Homo sapiens: one gene and its partners. The protein of the gene in region 1 purifies or fractionates together with the protein of each later gene. This does not show direct contact. Each region holds a gene or a part of one and is shown in the gene's direction. Other genes may lie near its edges.

What was found. The genes of interacting proteins can lie anywhere in the genome.
Region 2: the proteins of EEF1AKMT2 (region 1) and GSE1 purify together in Homo sapiens (affinity purification with mass spectrometry; one large-scale study listed by BioGRID and IntAct). This does not show direct contact.
Region 3: the proteins of EEF1AKMT2 (region 1) and GAK purify together in Homo sapiens (affinity purification with mass spectrometry; one large-scale study listed by BioGRID and IntAct). This does not show direct contact.
Region 4: the proteins of EEF1AKMT2 (region 1) and PAK3 purify together in Homo sapiens (affinity purification with mass spectrometry; one large-scale study listed by BioGRID and IntAct). This does not show direct contact.

Annotation. Positions count from the first base shown.
Region 1 is NC_000010.11:124,767,115-124,772,225, reverse strand, and holds part of EEF1AKMT2 (EEF1A lysine methyltransferase 2), read left to right. Parts: intron 1-5,111.
Region 2 is NC_000016.10:85,651,322-85,654,821, forward strand, and holds part of GSE1 (genetic suppressor element 1), read left to right. Parts: intron 1-2,956; coding exon 2,957-3,129; intron 3,130-3,472; coding exon 3,473-3,500.
Region 3 is NC_000004.12:922,317-925,816, reverse strand, and holds part of GAK (cyclin-G-associated kinase), read left to right. Parts: intron 1-3,500. UniProt on the Homo sapiens protein: Associates with cyclin G and CDK5. Seems to act as an auxilin homolog that is involved in the uncoating of clathrin-coated vesicles by Hsc70 in non-neuronal cells. Expression oscillates slightly during the cell cycle, peaking at G1.
Region 4 is NC_000023.11:111,102,691-111,106,190, forward strand, and holds part of PAK3 (serine/threonine-protein kinase PAK 3), read left to right. Parts: intron 1-465; exon of another isoform or gene 466-468; 5' UTR 469-616; intron 617-3,500. UniProt on the Homo sapiens protein: Serine/threonine protein kinase that plays a role in a variety of different signaling pathways including cytoskeleton regulation, cell migration, or cell cycle regulation.

The DNA of each region.
Region 1 (5,111 bases):
AGGAGAAGTCAGTGCCTGGCTTTAAATCTTCAGAGGAGAGGCTGACATTATTGTTAGAGGGGGCTAATGCAGCTGATGACTTTAAGTTGAAGCCAATGCCCATTTCCCATTCCGAAAATCTGAGGGCCCGTAAGAATTATGCTAGATCTTCTTTGCATGAGCTCTATAAATGGAACAACAAAGCCTGGATAACGGCACATCTGTTTACAGTATGGTTTACTGAGTATTTTAAGCCCATTTTTGAGACCTACTGCCCCAAAAGAAAAAGACTCAAAGTATTACTGTTCATTGACAATGCATGAATTCACCCAAGAGCTCTGATGGAGATATATAAGAAGATTAATCTTGTTTTTTTTTGAGACGGAGTCTTGTTCTATCACCCAGGCTGGAGTGTAGTGACTCGATCTCAGCTCACTGCAAGCTCTGCCTCCCAGGTTCATGCCATTCTCCTGCCTCAGCCTCCCAAGTAGCTGGGACTACAGGTGCCTGCCACCACACCTGGCTAATTTTTTGTATTTTTAGTAGAGATGGGGTTTCACCGTGTTAGCCAGGGTGGTCTGGATCTCCTGACCTGGTGATCCGCCTGCCTTGGCCTCCCAAAGTGCTGGGATTACAGGCGTGAGCCACCATGCCCAGCCGATTAATCTTGTTTTTATGCCTGTTAACACAGGATCTGTTCTGTAGCCCGTGATGGATCAAGGAGTAATTTCGACTTTACAGTCTTAAATGTGTTATTTAAGAAATGCATTTCATAAGGCTATGGATGTCATAGATAGTGATTCGTCTGATGCATCTGGGCAAAGTAGATTGAAAACCTTCTGGAAATGGGCTGGGCGCGGTGGCTCACGCCTGTAATCCTAGCATCTTGGGAGGCCAAGGTGGGCGGATCACAAGGTCAGGAGATCAAGACCATCCTGGCTAACATGGTGAAACCCCATCTCTACTAAAAATACAAAGAATTAGCCAGGTGTGGTGGCAGGTGCCTGTAGTCTCAGCTACTTGGGAGGCTGAGGCAGGAGAATGGCGTGAACCTGGGAGGCGGAGCTTGCAGTGAGCTGAGATCTAGCCGCTGCACTCCAGCCTGGGCGACAGAGCAAGACTCTGTCTCAAAAAAAAAAAAGAAAAAAGAAAACCTTCTGGAAATGATTCACCATTCTGCCTGTCGTGAAGAACATTTATAATTCATGGGAGGTCAGAATATCAACATTAACAGGAGTTTGGAAGAAGCTGATTCCAACCTTAATGGATGACTTGGAGAGAGGTTCAAGATTTCAATGGAGGAATTAACTGCAAATACAGTGGTAGTAGCAAACTAGAATTAGAAGTGGAGCCAGAAGGTGTAACTGAGTTGCTACAGTCTCTTGATAAAACTTGATCAGATAAGGAGTTGCTTCTTATGGTGGACGACCAGAGAAAGTGGTTTCTTGAGATGGAATCTACTGTGAACATTGTTGAAAAAGGATTTTGAATATTCCATAAACTTAGTTGATAAAGCAGTAGCAAGGTTTGAGAGCATTGCCTCCAATATCGAAGGATGTTCTGCTGTGTGTAAAATGCTATCAAACAATATCATGTACTCCAGAGAAATTTTTCATAAAAGGAAGAATCAGTCGATACGGCAAACTTTATTACTGTCTTATTTTAGGAAATTTTCACAGCTACCCCAGCCTTCAGCAACCAATACCTTGATCAGTCAGCAGGCATCCTTATTGAGGCAAGGCCCTCCAGCCAGAGAAAAGATTATGACTTACTCATGATTTCGATGATGGCTTGTTAGTGTTTTTTTAACAATAAAGTATTTTTTGTGGGGGATGGAGTCTTGCTCTGTCACCCAGGCTGAAGTGCAGTGGTGTGATCTTGGCTCACTTGCAACTTCCGCCTCCTGGGTTCAAGTGATTGTCCTGCCTCAGCCTCCCGAGTAGCTGGGACTACAGGCACCCGCCACCACACCCAGCTAATTTTTGTATTTTTAGTAGAGATGGGGTTTCACCATATTGGCCAGGCTGGTCTTGAACTCCTGACCTTGTGATCCACCCGCCTCGGCCCCTCAAAGTGCTGGGATAACAGGTGTGAGCTACCACGCCCGGCCATTTTTGTATTTTTTTAGTAGAGACGAGATTTCATCATGTTGACCAGGGTGGTATCAAACTCTTGATCTCAGATGATCCCTCCACCTTGGCCTCCCAAAGTGTTGGGATTACAGGCATGAGCCACCACTCCTGGCCTACAATAAAGTATTTTTTAAGGCACCCAATTTTTTTTTTTTTTTTTTTTTTTTTGAGATGGAGTTTCGCTCTTGTTGCCCTGGCTGGAATGCAATGGTGTGATCTCGGCTCACCACAACCTCTGCCTCCCGGTTTCAAGCGATTCTCCTGCCTCAGCCTCCGAGTAGCTGGGATTATAGGCATGTGCCACCATGCCCGGCTAATTTTTGTATTTTTAGTAGCGATGGGGTTTCACTATGTTGGTCAGGCTGGTCTTGAACTCCTGACCTCAGGTGATCCACCCACCTTGGCCTCCCAAAGTGCTGGGATTACAGGTGCGAGCCACCATGCCTGGCAAGGCACCCATTTTTTAAAAAGACATAATGCTATTGCACACTTAATAGACTGTAATACAGTGTAAACATAACTTCTATATGCACTGGGAAACCAAAAATTTTGTGTGACTTGCTTCATTGTGGTGTTTGCTTTGTTGTGTTGGTCTGGAACAGAACTTGCAATATCTCTGAGGGATGCTTGTAAAATCTGCCTGTTCAAAACTTCCATTTGGAAAGCTAATAGTCTCTCAACTTAATTAGTCCAAAATGAAACTCTTGGTTTCCTCCTCAGACCTGATTTCCCCAGTCTTTCCCGTTTCTACTAATAACACTCCCATTTACCCTGTTGCATTTACACAAAACCCAAGGAGTCATCCTTGATTCTTCTTTTTCCTTAAAGTCCTATATCCAATTCTGTTCGTTTTATTTATACACACATATATATATATATATTTTTTTTTTTTTTTTGGAGACAGTGTCTTGCCCTGTAGCCCAGGCTGGAGTGCGGTGGTGTTATTACAGCTCATTGCAGCCTCAATCTCCTGGGCTCAAGTGATTCTTCCACCAAAGCCTCCAGAGTAGCTGGGACTACAGGCCTGCTTCACCACACCTAATTTTTTTGTAGAGATGGGGTTTTGTCATGTTGCCCAGGCTAGTCTTGAATTCCTGGCCTCAAACAATCTGCCTGCCTCTGCTTTCCAAAGTGCTAGGATTACAGGTATGAGCCACTGCTTCTGGCCAGTTTTATCTTCAAAATATATCAAGAATGTGATCATTTCTTGTTATCTCAATTGCTCCCTGTGAAGTCCGAACCACCATTATTTCTTGTTTAAACTACTACAGTAGCCTTTGATTTTGCCCCTCCATTTCCACTCATGCTGCTCTGATGTTCTTTTACCACAGGGCAGCCAGAGTGATTTTTTCTTTGTTATTTTTTGAGACGGAGGCTTTTTCTGTTGCCCAGGCTGGAGTGCAGTGGCACCATCCTGGCTCACTGCAACCTCGGCCTCCTGAGTTCAAGCAATTCTCATTCCTCAGCCTCCCAAGTAGCTGGGACTACAGGCATGCACCACCACACCCAGCTAATTTTCTTCGTATTTTTTTAGTAGAGATGGGATTTCAGCACGTCGCTCAGGCTGGCCTTGAACTCACGACCTAAGGTGATCTGCCTGCCTCGGCCTCCCAAAGTGTTGAGATTACAGGTGTGAGTCACTGCGCCCGGCCTAATTTTTGTATTTTTAGTGGAGACCGGGTTTCAACATGTTGGTCAGGCTGGTCTCAAACTCCTGACCTCAAGAGATCCACCTACCTTGGCCTCCCAGAGTGCTGGGATTATGGGCATGAGCCACTGTGTTCAGCCCTGGCCAGATTTTTAAAAATGTCTGTTCATGTCGCTTCCTTGCTCACAATCCTGAACTGACTTCCCCATTGCATTGTAAATAGATTCTGAACCTCATCCAGCCTTACAAAGTCCCTCATTTCTTACCTTCTTCCTCGTTTATCATCAATACTCGGTCACATTGGCTTTTCTTCTGTTCCTGAAACATGTCAAGCTTGTTTTGAGTCTGTATACTTGCTGCCCTCTGCCTAGAGTATTCTTGCCCCAGATCTTAGCATGTTTGGTTCATTCTCATAATTCAGATCTTTGCTCAAATAACACCTTAGAGAAAACTTTATTTATTTATTTGTTTTTATTTTTTGAGATGGAGTTTCACTCTTGTTGCCCAGGCTGGAGTGCAATGGCGTGATCTCGGCTCACCGCAACCTCCGTTTCCTGGGTTCAAACGATTCTCCTGCCTCAGCCTCCCGATTAGCTGGGATTACTGGCATGCGCCACCACGCCCAGCTAATTTTTGTATTTTTAGTAGAGGCGGGGTTTGTCCATGTTGGTCAGGCTGGTCTCGAACTCCTGACCTCAGGTGATCTACCCGTCTCGGCCTCCCAAAGTGTTGGGATTATAGGTGTGAGCCACTATGCCTGGCCAAGAAAAGTTTCTACTCTTTTCCAAACTGTTTCTCTTCCAAGTCACTTAATGTCTTATTTCTCTGGCTTTATTTTCTTCATGGCACTTTATCTGAAGTTACTTATTTAGCTTATTTATCTTTTATCTTTCTCTTTGTAGAATATAAGGTATATTTTCTTTCTTTTCTTTTCTTTTCTTTTTTTTTTTTTTTTGAGGCAGTGTCTCGCCCTGTCGCCTAGACAGTAGTGCAGTGGTGCGATCTCTGCTCACTGCAACCTCTGCTTCCCAGTTCAAGCAATTCTCCTGCCTCAGCCTCCCAAGTAGCTGGGACTACAGGCACATGCCACCACGCCCGGCTAATTTTTTGTATTTTTAGTAGAGACAGGGTTTCACCGTGTTAGCCAGGATGGTCTTGATCTCCTGACCTCATGATCCGTCTGCCTTGGCCTCCCTAAGTGTTGGGATTACAGGCGTGAGCCACTGCGCCCGGCCAATATAAGGTATGTTTTCATACAGGGACCTTTTCTATTTTGTTTACTGTTTTTTTTTTTTTTTTTTTTTTTAAGATGGAGTCTAGCTTTGTTTCCCAGGCTGGAGTGCAATGGCGTG
Region 2 (3,500 bases), on another chromosome or scaffold:
CAGGGTTGGCCGGGCGCCAGCCAGACGGAAGCCACAGACATGTGGGTCTGGCTCGCCGGGCCCCTGCCCCGCCTGCTGGCTGCCCCCCAGCCCCCCGGACTCCCTGTTTGTCCTCAGCCAGGCCAGGAAGGTGCCATCTGGCCTGCGAGCAGGGCTTTGTCCTCGGCTGAGGGGAGAAGGGGTTCAAGGGCCGTGTCTGGGCTGGGGACAGGCCCCTCCTTGTGGCGGGGCGGCTGGGGCCCTGTGCTTTGCCGTTTGACCCGGCCCACGGCGCGGGCAGCATGCGGAGGAGGGCGGCAGGCCTGGGCTGTTGGTAGTTTGACCCTGGGTGCTGTCCTCAGGTCGAGGTCTGTCCTCCAGCCCTCTTCTGACTCTGGCCACCCAAGGCTGGGTGATGATTGAAGCCCCTGGCTGTCGTCTCCCTCCTGCCCTGGAGGCCTCCCCACCAGCCTGGGAGGGGGAGTCCAGGTACCCCGGGTGCCTGAGCAGGCGAGGCCCCTGTTCTGGGCATCCAGAGACCCACTAGCTTTAGGCCTGGTGTTCATTGGGGTGCTACTTGGATGCTGGGGGGCCAGGGGCCACTCCGTCTTGTTAAGTCCATCCCAGACCCTAGGAACAGGGTGTGTCCTTCCTCGTGCTCCGTTCCTCAGATGTTTGGCCCTATGCCAGGCAGGGTAGGGGCGTGAGGCAGGATCTAGAAGCCCAGCCTGGAAATAGCCTCACGGGGCTGGGGTAGGCAGGCCAGCCTGGCAACACACCTGCCATGTCCGGGCCCCCACCCTGCTGGTGCGTCCCCCACATGCCCGTGCACAGCTGTGCCATCAACTCTGCTGCCCTGTGAGTCCCCCGCATGCCCGTTCATAGCCGTGCCATCAACTCTGCTGTCCTCTGAGCAGGTGCCGTGACGGGCACATGCCATTGATGTGTGCACGAGGCACGACAGGATGGCCAGGTCTCCCAAGGTCAGGTTGGCCCCTCGGCCACTCCCCCACTACCCCGGTTGCTGACACCGGCTGGAGACCCCAAGGCCAGGCGCTGGCTCCTCAATAGGAAGTTCCCGGCCCCACGCAGGGCGTCAGTGCCCATGTGTACCTCCCACCCTCGAGACCAGCACCCTGGAGAGGCAGGTCAGAAGTCGTGAACCCAGGAGGACCCTACAGAGAAGGGGGGCCGGGGCTCAGCCCGCGGGAAGGGAGCAGATGCTGCCTCTCATTGAAGATTCCAGGCGGCGGCGGCGGCGGCGGCTCCTCCAGTTAATCCTCGCTGACTGTCTCCTGGAGGGTGGAGAGAGGGGAGGCGCCGGCCCGGGCTGCCTGCACTGCCTCTGCGCGGGTGCCATGTGCTGCTGCCGGGTCACCGTCTGCCGCTATGAAGATGGATGGGCCCAGGAAGAGGGGCTGGCGGGTCAGGGACACAGGCACGGCCCCTGGGAGACAGATGCTTCTCCACGGTGGGGCAGGTCTCAGAGCCCCTGGGCCATCATTCCTGCTGATCTTGTGGGGAGACGGCCATGGCCTCCTTGTTTTTTGGGTGTTTGGCATTTCGTGGCTCAGGGAGGCAGAGCGGGGCTGGTGCTCTTCAGGAGCACTGCCCGCTGATCAGCAGTCGTTACCTGACATGGCCAGATGGAACGTGAGGAAGGGCCGGGTTCCCGTGGCTCTGCATCCCTGGGAAGCTCAGAGGGGCCAGCGTGGCCATGGCTCTCAGACACCCCCAGGTCAGGGTAGGCCTGGGCAGTGCTGTCCCCACATGGGGAAGATGCTGGGGCTGAGAACGGCTGCCCCAGTGACAGAGTGACGCCTGGGTTGGCAGCCATCCAGAGTCCAGAGCACAGCCCCCATCTGGGCCGCCCTGAGGCTCCCTCCGCCCCCCTCCTCCCCCCTCCTCCCCCCTCCCCCTCCTCCTCCTCCTCCCCCCTCCTCCTCCTCCTCCTCCTACCCCCTCCTCCTCCTCCTCCTCCTCCTACCCCCTCCTCCTCCTCCTACCCCCTCCTCCTCCTCCTCCCACTTAGTCACACGAATAACAGGAACAAGCAAGGCCTTTTCATGCTCTGGTTTCTCCGGGCTGGACCCTGCGTGTGTGCGGGGCAGCCTCTGCGTGGCTAGGGGTGGCACGGCCTATCCTTGAACTTGGCAGGGACCTCAGCCCGGAAGGTGGGCTTTGGGCCACTGCCTCCTCCTGCTTTGTGCCTGGAGAAGACCCCTCATCTGAGTCCTCTGGACCACCTTCCCAGCTACACCCAGGTCCACTGTGTCCAGGAGCCTGGGACAGGCGAGCTGTTGCCTTCCCTGCCCCACCGTGTGTGTGAAGGCCGGTACCCCAGCTGGCCAGTCAGGGCCCAGCTGCTGCCTGTTCTGGTGGGCTCCAGGGCCAGGGCCACCCCAGGAGGTGGTTGGGGGCAGACCAGCACCTTCGGCCCAGGGGCAGTGCCAGCTTCCTTTGCCCCTGCCCTCCACGTGGGCACCAGGGCCAGGACATCTGCGGCCAGGTGGGCAGCTGTCGGCGCAGTTGACGTCTTGGCTACATCGTGGCACTCGCTTCACGGCGTGCTGGGTGCCAACGGTGTCTGCTTCCCCGGGTGTGTGTCTGGTGTGACCTTCGGATGTCCACACCAGGAGGGGTGGAGGCAGGAGCCCCTGCCACCCTGCATCCTTCACCTGCACACATTGTGTTTCTGGGGGGTTCTAGTTCTTTTGCTGGACTGAGGAGGCCCAGGGAGGGAGACGGATCCCGAGACGCACTTCACCCCAGACCTGTCGCAGCCACATCCCCTTTCTTACGGTTCTGCTTCCCACACCACATGCACCATGTTTTGCGTAGAAAGCCTTAGGGAAAGGATGTTTCTAGAACATGAACTAAATCTAGCGCCTTCCCGTGAGTCAGGAGACCTGGCTGTGTCCTGTGGTCAGTGGCCTATACCAGGCTCCTGCCCTGACTGGACGCTCTCCTCCCGCAGGATGCCGGCTCCAGGAGCAGCAGTGGAGGTCGGGAACGCCTCATTGTGGAGCCCCCGCTCCCTCAGGAGAAGGCAGGGGGACCAGCCATCCCCTCGCACCTGCTCAGCACCCCCTACCCCTTCGGCCTCTCCCCCAGCTCAGTTGTGCAGGATTCCCGCTTCCCGCCACTCAAGTAAGTTGGTCGGCGGGGACTTCGGTGAGGTGGCCAGGTGGGGACACAGTGCTCAGGGTCTGGGTCCCCAGGCAGCCTGCGGTCTGCACAGATGAGGCTGTGCCTGCTAGATGGTTGTCGGCCGCTGAGCCCTGGGGATTGCAGCCCTGTCTGTGCCCCTTCACACTGAGGTGGCAGTGGCAGCTCGCTCCCCCCGCTGCTTAAGCCCCGTCCTCGTTCGGGGTGCCAGGAGTCTGGGTGCCGACTGAGCGCCAGGGGTGATGCAGGGAGTTTAGCCGTCCCCCCATGCAGGAGCAGGTGTGCACTCACCTGTCCCCACCTTGCCCACTATCCCCGCCTGCAGCCTCCAGCGGCCCGTGCACCACGTGGTG
Region 3 (3,500 bases), on another chromosome or scaffold:
TTCCTCACGGCTCTGCAGGCTGGAAGTCCAGGCGCAAGGCGCCGGCAGATCTGGTGTCTGGTGAGGTCCAGCACCTTCTCGCTGTGTCCTCACAGGGCAGAAGGGGTGAGGGAGTGCTCTCTGGGGCAGTAATCCCAGTCCTGAGGGCTCCACCTTCATGGCCTAGTCACCCCCAAGGAGGCCCCACCTCCTAACACCATCACCTTGGGTATTAGGATTTCACACAGGAATTTTGGAGGGGACACAGATTCATTCTGTAGTGTTGTGAATTATGTGTGTATTGAAAATGTTGGTATGTGGTATTTTACGTTAGAAAAGTGTCTGTTTCTTAAAAGAGGCCGAGTTGATTAAAAAAGATACTCAGATCTGCCTGTAGTGGTCCTGTACTGACCTCACTGTCCCCCGGCACTCTGTCCCGTCCCCAGCGTGCTCCGTGCATCCTACACGCATCCTGGTGAGAGGTGTCCTCAGCCCTTTGCATGGACGCTGGTGGGCTGTGTGGGGGAAGGTTGCCCAGCTCTGCTCATGGGGCCTGCAGGCTGCTCGGGGGCACCAGACTCTAGTGTCCCAAGTCCTCAGAGTGTCCCCTGGGGGTTTGTTTTATTTGGACATTTTGATGGGTTTAAAAAGTGTCAAGCTTTGATTTGTGCCTTTCTGAGTAGCGAGTTTGGTAATGCTTATTTGCTGCTCAGCCTCCCCTTCTGGCATTGCACATTCATATCCTGTGCCTGTTATTTTTTTATTCTTATTTTTTTGAGATAGAGTCTTGTTGTGTTGCCCAGGCTGTAGTACAGGGGTGTGATCTCAGATCCTGGCAACCTCCTCCTGAGAGCAGCCCCCGGGCAGAACTCCACCCCCATGACCCAATCAGATCTCACAGGAGAGCACTCACTATCCTGAGAGCAGCCCCTGGGGGAACTCCACCACCACAACCCAATCAGATCTCACAGGAGAGCACTCACTATCCTGAGAGCAGCCCCCCGGGGGAACTCCACCCCCACGACCCAATCAGATCTCACAGGAGAGCACTCACTATCCTGAGAGCAGCCCCGGGAGGAACTCCACACCCATGGCCCAGTCAGATCTCACTATCCTGAGAGCAGCCACGCCATGGGGAACTCCGCCCCATAATCCGGTCACCTCCCACCAGGCCCCTCCTCCAACATTGAGGGTCACAAGTGAACATGAGATTTGCATGGGGACGCAGATCCAAACCGTATGTGCTGTTATGAATAAAGATCCAAACCGTGTCCGCTGTTATGAATAAAGATCCAAACCGTATCCGCTGTTATGAATAAAGGTGCCGAGAACATTTTTTTTCAAGTCTTTTTGTGGACGTGTGTTTTTCTTTGTCTTGGGTAAAAAATACCAAGGAGTAGGATTGCTGATTTACAGGTTGGATTTAGGTTGAACTTCACATGAAACAACCAAACCTCCTTCCACGGTAGCTGCACCATTTTACATTTCCACCAGCTGCAGTGGAGAGTTCCTGGCTCTCCACTTCCTCACCAGCATTTCTTGTGGTCTCTCATTTTGATTACATCCATTCTTGTGAGTGTGCAGTGGTGTCGATCTCATTGTGATTTCATTGGAATTTCCCTGATGATGATGTTCAGCAATTTTTTTTTTTTTTTTTTTTTGAGAGGGAGTCTTGCCCAGGCTGGAGTGCAGTGGCTCCATCTTGGCTCACGGCAAGCTCCACCTCCCAGGTTCAAACAATTCTCCTGCCTCAGCCTCCCAACTAGCTGGGATTAAAGGCATGCACCACCATGCCCAGCTAATTTTGTATTTTTTAGTAGAAATGGGGTGTCACTATGTTGGTCAGGCTGGTCTCAAACTCCTGACCTCAGGTCACCCGCCGGCCTTGGCCTCCCAAAGTGCTGGGATTACAGGCATGAGCCACGGCGCCTGGCCTTTTTGTCCATTTTTTATTGGGCAGGGAGTTTCTGCTTACTCTGGATACAGGTCTTATGTTTATATATTTATATAATTTATGTGAGAAAGAGAAGGCAAGCCTTAGCTGTGGTCACTCTGCTGTCCCAGGCCAGGCTGCCTCAGGGAACCTGGGCCTTGAGATTTGACCTGGCTTGAGCATTTGATGTCTCTGTGCCTCCACTCCCCACCCCTCCACTCCCTGCCCTTGAGATGAGGTCTTGCTTTGTTGCCCAGGCTGGAGTGCAGTGGCATGATCACAGCTCACCACAGTCTTGAACTCCCGGACTCAAGCGATCCTCCCACCTCAGCCTCCCAGGTAGCTGGGACCACAGGCACGCACCACCACGCCTGGCTAATTTTTAATTTATTTCTGGTAGAGATGGAGTCTTGTTATGTTGCCTGTAGGCTGTTCTCAGAACTCCTGGGCTCAAGTGATTCTCCCACCTCGGCCTCCCAAAGTGCTGGGATTGCAGGTGTCAGCCACTGTGCCTGGCCTGTGCCTGTTCCTTAATTGGCAGAGTGTGTGCTGTAAAATGTATATAACAGGGTCTTGGAGGTACCCGACATGCCATTCTTTAATGTCTTATACGTTACTATTATTTTTAAATAAACTGTATTATTTTGAGTTCATTGTAGGTTCCCACGCGGCTGTGAGAAAAGATGGAGATCTTTTCTATTTTAGACCCTTGCCTGGTTTCCCCAGTGGTGACGGTCGGGATGCTAACCCTGGTGCAGGTGAGGCTGTGGAAGTCTCCATCCCCGTAGGGAGCCCTCATGCCACCTCTCAGCCACGCCATTTCCTTACCCTCTGGAAACCTCTAGTCTTTGCTCTGTCTGTGATTTTGTCATTCGAAGGATGCAGTGTAAGGGGAAGTGCAGAATTCTTCAGGTAATTGTGTGTCAGTAGCTTGTTTCCCGTGGTGAGACTCCTCTGCGTGAGTGTGCACGGCTTGCCCAGCCAGCCACCCGTGGAAGGACATCTGGGCTGTTTCCTGTTTTGGCTACTACAGATAAAGCTGCTGTGACACTTGCGTATAGGTTTTTGTGTGAATATACGTTTTCATTTCTGGGATAAATGTTTAAGAGTGCAGTTGCTGGTTCATGTGTGGTAATTATGTGTTTAGTTTGTTAGAAAACTGCCAGATTGTTTTCTTGAGTGGCCATACATTCCCACCAGCAATGTAGGAGCGTATCAGCCTGGTTAGGCTGCCATAACAAAATACTCCAGACTGAGTGGGGAGCAGTAGAAATTCACTCTCGCAGTTCTGGAGGCTTGAAGGCCAAGAGCAAGATGCTGTCAGTGCTGATTCCAGGAGAGGCCTCTTTTGCTGGTTTGCAGATGCTGCCTTTTTTTTTTTTTTTTTTTTGAGATGGAGTCTCGCTCTGTCACCCAGACTGGAGTGCAGTGGCGCAATCTCAGCTCACTGCAACCTCTGCCTCCTGGGTTCAAGCAGTTCTCTTGCCTCAGTTTCCTGAGTAGCTGGGACTACAGGCGCCCACCACCATGCGCCGCTGATTTTTGTATTTTTAGTAGAGACGGGGTTTCACCATGTTTCCCAGGTTGG
Region 4 (3,500 bases), on another chromosome or scaffold:
TCCTGTGATTATACACATTGCTCCATAATTATGCAGACTATGTAAATATTTCACATCTGTCCTATTTGATTTAGTTCTTCCAACACTTACCCAAGTCAACTAAGGCAGGCCTTTTCACTTGATACTAAGCAGGCCCAGAATGATGAGGTGACTAACAGCAATTCTCAGCTTGTAACTCCCAACTCCTGACTCCCACTTCCGTGCCCTTTCTGGAATCCTATGTAACAATGCCTTTTTACACTTCTTAGCCCTCTGATTTTCTAGCTTTCTTAAGAGATATTCTGAAATTCACCAGAGAGATTGAGAAAGAGAGAGAGAGAGTGTGTGTGTGTGTGTGTATGAGAGAGAGAGTATGTGTGTGTGTGTGAGAGAGAGAGAGAGAGAGAGATGTTTGGTGGGAGTTGGATGAGGGAGCAGTAGCAGGTGGGGAAAGAGGTTCCCTCTCCCCTACAATGCTTCTCTCAGCAGGTTTCCCCCAAGAAAGAGCAGCTGAGTCCTTGCATCTTGTGGCAGCTGGTGTGCCCAGCACTGAGTCTGTAGGAGCTGAAGCCAGCCCGGACCCTTCTCATGGGCAGTGCCCACCTGTGCTGAAGTCCTGCAGCGGTGGCGGTGTGAGGTGAGTAATGGAGTCCAGGGCAGGGAGTTAGGGATCTCCAAATCCAGGCAAATGCTGCTTTTCCACCAGATCTCCCAATATCAAAGACTCTGCCTAGACCTCGTGAGCTAGGCCTCAGGGCATGACCCCTATGTTCTGGGGAATTTTGCCCAGTACAGCTGCCTTTAGTCTCTTGCCTCCCTCCCATCTCTAATATGGGAATGACAGCCTTGACCTACATTTTGGGGTGAGGAGGAGAAACAACATAACAATCGTTGCCAAGTCCGTTGCAGATGTCAAGCACCATCTAAGAGCTTCAGTATAACACAGACATGCTTCCCATCAAGCTGTCATTTTCTTTTCTCCTCCTTTCCTGGTGCCTGGGTGGCTTTTCAGCCACATGCTGCAAATTTGCCATTCAGTTCCTATGATTTCTACTGCCCCATAACCTTAATTTTACCTTCCTGTTTGAAGTGTACCCCCACCCCTTCCATCCCTGCTTCTGGGCCTGTCAGACTTAGCTTAAACCTTCCCAAACCTTCCCTCTGCTTTCCCACCCAACCAAGATGCACTTCCTCCACCAGGTCTCCAACAGCACTTGAGTCTGTAGCGTGCAGGGTAGCACTTGCTGCCCTACTGCCTTAAATAAGTCTTGCATGGTTTCTGGAGTATTCATCTTACCAGGAAAACTAGATTGTAAGCTCTTCAAGGGCAGGGACTAGATCTTACAGATCTCTAGTCTCCCTTAAAAGGGCTCAAAAGTTCCCCAGCAGCTTTGCAAGTTGGGCCTCTCTCTCTTCCTCTGCATTTCTTTCAGGTTTCATGGCCTGTCTCTCCGATCATCTATTTGTTTTTTTGTCTGCCTTTCAGGCAGGCATTATAACTTCTTCTGTCAGCTTCTCCATCTGGCCTCTGTTGCTATTCCCTGCAGTCCAGCTACCTGCTTGTAGCTTGCTGTCCCTCTGTCTGGTCTTCTGTCTATCAGTTGCTTAGGCATCTCTCCTATTACCCAAATCAAAAAACAACCAACAAAATTAAAAAAAAAAAACAGAAAAACTAAACAAAAAACAAGCAAGGAATAAGCAATGTAGTTCCCTTTCACACTGAGCATACAATGCGCCTACAGACAAGGTAAAACTGCAGCTCAGCAGCAGGTGTTTCTGTGATGCCTTCTTATGAAAGGGAAGCTCCAGAGTTTCAGCCATGGAATTGAAGGTATGAAATTACAGCCTTGTTGATACTGATGCATTCAACTTTCTAGCGATGTTCTGGTAGGGGATCCTCTTTAGGCCTTGACGGACAGAAGGTAACTAGGACTGACTAAAATGAGAAGCCCCTGAATCGCTCTTTGGTGTTCTGTGACAGATGCAATAATAACTTGTATTTATTGTCTACTGTTGCCAGCTCTGTGCTAGGCTCTTTACTGGCATGATACCATTTTCTCCTATGATAATCTTGCAAGGTAGGTATTTTTTTTTCTAATAGTTATTGCTGTTTCTGATTATACAAGTGATACTAGCTGAAGTTAGGTATTATCATCATTACTGTTTTACCAAGGAGGAGATAGAGGCTGAGAGAAGCTAAGTAACTTGCCTGTAACAGAAGACATGCTGTGGCTTTGGGAAGAAAGAGACTTCCTGGAGAGAGTTTCCCAGCATCCAAAGTTATTTTGGTATCTTTAGTTCATGCACATACACATACATACTCTCACAAGCACATTCTTGTACTCTTGTACATTCACACAGTCACATCATCCCCTGGGCTCACTCACTTTTCATACTGGAGTCATTCAAAATGATGATCACTCTTATGCCCTCACCCTCACACACAATCATATTTACATACATGCTACATTTAGGTACATTCACACTGCCACAAATTCACATTCACGTATTCACATTTTCATATTGATGCACACAACACACTTACCATACACCCCACCCTCATGTTCACAGACACTCACACCTTTGTGCTATTAATATCATATTCTCACACACACACACAATCATACACTTTCACACTTACATTCACACAGAGGATACAATCACCTTTGCCTGCCCAAATTCCTGTATAGTCATACATACTCTATACACAAATAATACATTGACATTCCCCCTGCACACACTCCAACTGTTTCTTATACTCACAGCCATTCATACACTCAATTTCATACACTCCAGTGTACTTGCATTGATGTCATCACTGTTTCTTCCTCACAGTCACAAACTTATCACAGGGACACAAACGTGCATACATGCTCATATATCCACGTTTATATTTTCTCACATCATAAGCACCATCTCACCCACTTGCACTTTTACACTTAGAATTACACACTTTTGCATTCACATACACAGAGCTAAAACAACCTCCCTACTCCTGATACATTCACACATAATCACATTCATACATAGAAACACACATTTTGCCACACATTCACACTCACACACTCACTTTCTTCACACTGAGACATCATCACACTCTATACCAAACTTGCAGGCACATACACTGAAATACAACCATACACACATATTTTTATAAACTCAGCCATTTTCACTGAAAACCGTCACTCTACCCTCTCAAACTCAAGCACAATCACTTACACACACAGGTATAGTCACATTGACTGACACATATATAGGCTTATTCACATTCAGTACTCATACAAATTCACATAAACATACATACTGCACATGTACTTAACACTCACATATTCACTCACTTTCACATTCACGACTGTACACTCAAAATTATACACGCCCTTATTCCCACAGACAAGCACTCCTCCACATTCGTGTACATGCACATGTGTACCCCCTCACACACCATCCCCCACTCGTACATCACACATTTTCACACTGGCCCAATCACACTTACCACACACTCACATTCTTATACATTCCCA